Linked DNA regions of Homo sapiens: region 2 is linked to region 1. Evidence: fine-mapped expression QTL. Tissue or cell type: monocytes. Region 1 holds a variant in brackets; the other region holds the start of a gene. All regions are shown on one strand. Distances are between the middles of the regions. Region 1 overlaps VPS50 (VPS50 subunit of EARP/GARPII complex). Region 2 holds the start of VPS50 (VPS50 subunit of EARP/GARPII complex).

The links. PIP is the estimated chance that this variant, and not a neighbour inherited with it, causes the effect.
Region 2: VPS50 starts here. The variant in region 1 is the best candidate, but not a certain one, in a credible set for the expression of VPS50 in monocytes (TOPMed, PIP 0.51).

Annotation. Positions count from the first base shown.
Region 1 is chr7:93,338,814-93,341,627 of GRCh38, forward strand. It overlaps VPS50 (VPS50 subunit of EARP/GARPII complex), which reads left to right. Exons shown (of 28, transcript NM_017667.4): 23 at 2,614-2,762. Among named protein-coding and RNA genes, the nearest start is that of VPS50, 110 kb to the left of the region's middle. The variant C/T (reference allele first, on the strand shown) is at 1,591.
Region 2 is chr7:93,230,872-93,233,685 of GRCh38, forward strand. It overlaps VPS50 (VPS50 subunit of EARP/GARPII complex), which reads left to right and starts at 1,495. Exons shown (of 28, transcript NM_017667.4): 1 at 1,495-1,629. The coding sequence starts at 1,597. It also overlaps a transcript of HEPACAM2 not described here. RefSeq lists enhancers at 1,196-1,265, 1,406-1,575, 1,666-1,715, 1,956-2,015.

The sequences.
Region 1 (2,814 bases):
ACTGTGTGGAAACTGGCATAGAAATAGGAGATGCTAGAGACAGAGCTCTCTATTCATGGGCTTTTAGAATAGTCCAGTCAAGACTGCTAAGGAGCCTGTGACCTGTTTAAATAGTAACATCCGGAAGGAACAAACAAGAGAGGTGTCTGTTTAGGCATGTTTTAGTGATTGATTGGATGTGGAAGGTGAGGAAGAAGGGGAGTCATGAATGACTGTAAGGTTCCTTACTTGTTTCTTATCAATAACTACCAGAATTAAATAGCATAGACAACCAATTGGTGCCAAACAGTATTTAATTTTGTGAATTTTTATTCTCCTTTTTTTTTTCTGCTGGAGTAGGGTTATTTCCTTTTTAGAGGGAAATGAATGATGGAGATACGACATTAATTAACTTGCATGGATCCATGATCCTGCTTCTCCCTAGAGGAAGCACAGTTATTCCCCAACTAACTTTTAAATGCTAATTGAGTAATTAGAGATTGAAAAGAGACACTGTCTTTAGGAGAAGATAGGAAATAAAAAAAAAAAAAACAGAACTAAAGAATTAAACCACTTTCTAACTTGAAAAGTTTTATAATTTTTATTTGCATTTTGCTAAATTTATAGGAGTAAATTATATGTATGCATTTGATGTCTCATTTATTCATATGGAAAATAATTGGAGATTTGTTACTATCAAGTTGCTGTAAAAAGTAATCTAGCTTTATATTTTGTACACTATTAGATGCGTTTACATCCAATTTTTGTGCTAAATTTTCTTTGAGGGTTTTTTAAAGCTATTTTATTTGCATTTAAACATTTAGTTTTGCTATCTGCCTACTCATATGTTCTCACCTTTAAACTCCATAATAGAGATAACCATGGAGTGTTTTCCATACTGAAAGTAGTACATAAACTGCAGGGGTTGTATTATATAATGTTTAGCATCTCTTCTAACTCTGTCATTCTATGATTCAATCAACATTTTAAAACTTTGAGTGGGGGCAGGGGTTAACTTGTATTCAGATTAACTTTAAAAAAGATAATAGCATTTTTGTACTATGAGCTATTGCTTAACTTACATAGCTTTTATTCTATTTTTTTTCTTTTTGTAAATTTCTCTTATGGAATTTTTTAAAAAATGTAATGAATGGAATTCATTGCCATGTCAGTACTGTAAAACTCTATAGTTAAACTAAAAGTATAATGACCATTTGTAATTCAAGCTCATTGTTATTAGAAATATATTTGGTTATAAAAGTTCTTAATGGCCTTCACAGTGAAGTGACCCTGGATTATACTGTCATCAGTGATGTTAAGATTCCTGCAGTGTCACTACCTTGACCTCTCTCCTTCGTGCCCCAGAAAACAATAATTAAAAGTCTCTTTCTCTGAGGTGTAATGCAGCAACTATTCAAATAACTGTTATGATGATGCCAGTATTCTAAACAGCCTTCTTTCATGTTTGCTGTACAAAGGGAAACTTAGTCACCAAAATAAGTTTATATTAAGTTAAATATTGAAATATTTGGAGTGATTGGTAACTCTTGAGCTGGCAGTCTTCTGGTACTCTGTCAGCTACTCCGAGTAGCCAGCCTTGTGCATCTTTAC[C/T]CATGATCTCAAGATATTCCCATCCTCCTGGCAAAAAAAGGTGGCCAGTGTGCCTGGGAGTTGAAATGTGTTTTTGTTTTTTTAACTGTTTGCTAAGAGCTTAGTAAAAAATGAGTCCCTTGCTATGTATTGAGAAGTTGAGTAAGTGTATCTTTGAAACTCTTCCTTTGCCAACCTGTTTGTTTATAACATAGGATATGTTTATATGAAGTCCAAGAATGTACATAAACTCATATCCAAGGCATTCGTTGCCTGGCATCAGAATACCTAGAAAGGTAAATTAGTAATGAGAAGATTTCTAATGAGTATATCATCAGATGAAAGTAAAACTGAGAAATTTGAAGTCCGATGAGTTTTCCCGACCACAAATTAGACTGCATCACTCCTGTTGACTACATGGCTGTGTAACTGAATCAGTGGTTCTCTCCTGGATGGTGCTGAAGAGCCTGGCACACCCTGCTTCCTGGGTATCCCTTTCCTTTGTTCACATTGACCATCTTCCTTCTTATCAGCAGTCTGTCCCCAGACATATACAATACAGTTGGCTCTGTTCTAGTTTATAACTTCATTCTAGTCCTGCCTTCTTGAGATTATATACCAGGGTAACCTTCATTAAAATTTGGGTGTGAGATGGTTAATCAAAAAATAATTTTGGATTTTATCAGCATGGTTCTCAAGGGGTAATCATATTTCTCTCATTTACAAGTTCTTGAGGGCCATCTCACTGTTGTCACTGTGAAACATCTGTCAATTCATAAAGAGTCCTTGTGTTGACAGACTTTAGGTCATGTACAGATGGTAGCATGTAGAGTTGGATGATATTATGTAGGCTCATTCTCATTTAGGATTAAAAAGAAGGTTCCAATAGTTACAAACATGAAAGCAGGATAAAAAGAACTGAACCTAAATGTAATTAACGTGTGCCCCAAGAGTATTTTAATTTTAATTCTAATTTTGTCAAAATCACGTGGTTTATTACTGTTAGATTTGTTATTCCAGGTTGTATATCTATTGTATTTTCAGGAAGTTTCAGCTGATCCTACTGCCACACTCACAGCAGCAGAAGAAAGAAAGGAGAAGGTGCCAAGTCCACACCTCAGTCACCTAGTGGTTTTGACATCTGGGGATACGCTGTATGGGTTGGCAGAAAGAGTGGTAGCCACGGAATCCTTGTAAGTTGTTCAAAACAGTTGCGTTGCCATTAAATATTTAAGAAACTTTATA
Region 2 (2,814 bases), 110 kb before region 1:
ATGCACAAGGTGGTTCTGTTGGAGTAGAGAACTGGGCAGAATCAAAACCAATAATACCTCATAATTGTATAGTGCTTTACAATTTATACATTTCATTCACCTACATCATCTCACTTATCCTTACAAAGCCCTATATAAAATATTAAAATATTACAACCTCATTTGTAAAAATTAATAAAACGAGGCTCTAAGGGGTGAGAAAATAGAATTTCAGAATCAGAAATAACCTCTGTTAGTGTCCCCCAAACTTCAGTCATTTGCAAATCACCTTTATTAGTTTTGCCATATCTGACTACCACCCATACTATTGTTTACCTAGTATTTTTTATTACGTTGACACACTTGAACTTTTTTTATTCTAAGAAATATTTTTGAAATTATGGGTCTGTGTCATACTTTTAGAAGTTAACATTATAATAAAATAAACTTAAAAAAATTGGTGCCATGCTTTAGAACTTTCTTCAGCACAATACATGAAAATCTTAACACATCTGATGACCGATTAATCCTTCAGTTTCTACTTGCACATCTGCAGTAATCTTAGGCAAGTTCCTTAATTTCGCCATACCTGCTTCGTCATCTTTAAAATGGGAACCCACAGGATTCTTGTGTGGATAAATGAAATCATATATTTAAAGCTATTAGCAGTTCCTGACAGGTACTCGGCTTTCGATAAGTGTTAGCTATCATTGTTAGCTTTAGGGCTGCTTTTTCTTCTTCTTCTCATATTCTCATAATTGTAAAGTCCTTTTAAAATTGTGTCCCCAAAGACACTTCTGTTCCTTTCCCCAATTTAACTAAACTGCCAAAAGTTGAAAAGAGGACTTTAAAGTGACAGGTATACTCGTTATTGTCGTATTTCCCGTCATCACTGCTTTAGAGTACGGAGGTAAAATAATAGGCGGGCGTCAAAATCCTTCGATTTTAGAGCTTTTGCAGGGGATACCAAGACTGAGGTAGAACAGCCCTAAACCTGGAGGGCCGCCTATTGGGCAACCTAGAGCACACCTTTCCTCAGGCCAAACCCAGCGCGCCCGGGGTAGTCTCGAGTTCTCAGGTTACCCCTCAGTGACAGCCCTTTCTTGAGTTCCTTCTCCTTCGCGTCAGTCTCTCGTTCTCCCACCCCGCCCCTCTAGACCAGGTGAGGTTTCCTCCCTCACACTCCTAGGGGACATCGCGTCAATCTGGCTTATATATTGTCTCCTCTGAGTTTGATCTTTCGCTCAACGCCTAGTCACCTGTGACTTAGGTTTCCGTCTCGCCGAAGAGTAGCTACTGCCTAGTGCAAGCACCTTTGTAAGACCGGCGATCGCAGTGGTCGCTCTGAGCAGTAATATTTACCGGCTTAACTGAAGCACCCGCTCTTTTGCTTGCTGGGAGATGTAGTCCCTGGGTTGGCCACTTTAGTTCATCGTTGCTACCGCCGGCGTCCAGAAGACTACAGTTCCCAGCAGGCCCAGGGAAAGACAGGATACCCTGGGTCGGCTCCTCCACGTGACCACCCACTATGGCTTCCTAGTGTCAGGGCCAGCTGTGTAGTGGCTCGGTGTGATTTGTTAGCTCTTTGAGGCAGGGTACCCTCCTCAGGATTTCGATATGCAAAAAATCAAATCTCTCATGACCCGACAGGTAAGTCGCGGCGGCTGAAGCAAAGGCTTCCTTCATCTCGGAAGTGAGAGGAGCCGAGATGTTCTGTCCCCAACCAGTGGCGGGCGGGGATCTAAGTTATGGGTGGTGGCAGGTGTCAGGGGGACTGGGAAGCCGGGGCATACCCTAGAAAACTCACCTGGGCCGCCTGGGTTGGAGCACTGCTCCAGCGGGTACCAGCCTCCCAGAAATATTCGTTTAAAAATAAGTCATTGAAGGAATCAGGGTATCTTTGTCTCCCCTCCTCCTCTTTTTGCCGTCTTTCCAGAACAGCCCGAGCTTCCTTGCAAGGTCTTCCGCATCCAGGCTGTCTGTCATATGCGAGCTGATAGCCTGGGTAGGGTGGTGTGGTCTGTGCAGTAGAGGTGACCTGGAAAGACTGAAAACGGATGATTTGAAGACAGAATTAGTAGCTTTTGGATTTTGGGCAAGTCCCCAAACTTTGTAGCTTACGTTTCTGGATGTGAAAATAATTATTTTTGTTCATTTTACTTCACAGTTCTGTTATGAGGGTCATCGATAAGCTAATATATGTGAAAACTCTTTGTGAAATTCTGCTTTAAAAAATTTATTTTTGTCATGGCAAAATACTGATCTTTTCTTTTTTTTCCCCAGAATGGAAATTCATGAATAAGAGCTTTGGCTATTTTGTAACCTGTCTCATAAATGTTAGGGACCTCGTAATAATGCCTCAGCTTCATTTAAGAAGTGCAGAAATTTTCTTTTATGTACTTATTGATTATGACTTTGTTTTAGCTGCCTTTATTTACTTCAGCTTTAATATTTCACTAGAATTGGTCATTTTATTATTTTAATATGAAAGATAGTTAAGATTAGAGTTTTAAATCAACATGGCTTTTAGAAGTTTGGAGAATGTGGAAGGTAATCGTTTAGTGAAAGGTATATTTGTGAGTTTTTTTCTTGTTGATTACAAAAATAACTCAAATTCCACATTCTTATTTGAGAATTCACAATTTGAGAGATATATAAACAGGATACAAATTGTGTATTTCTCTTGCACAATGCACAAATGACCCTTACATGATTATTTTAGTTATGTCAGAGCATTTTGTTAATGTTATGAAAATATAATCAAAATGTTCTGTGAATAATAAAAATATTTAAGTAAGTGGCTAGTAACATTTGTTAATTCCTCACATGTGTTGA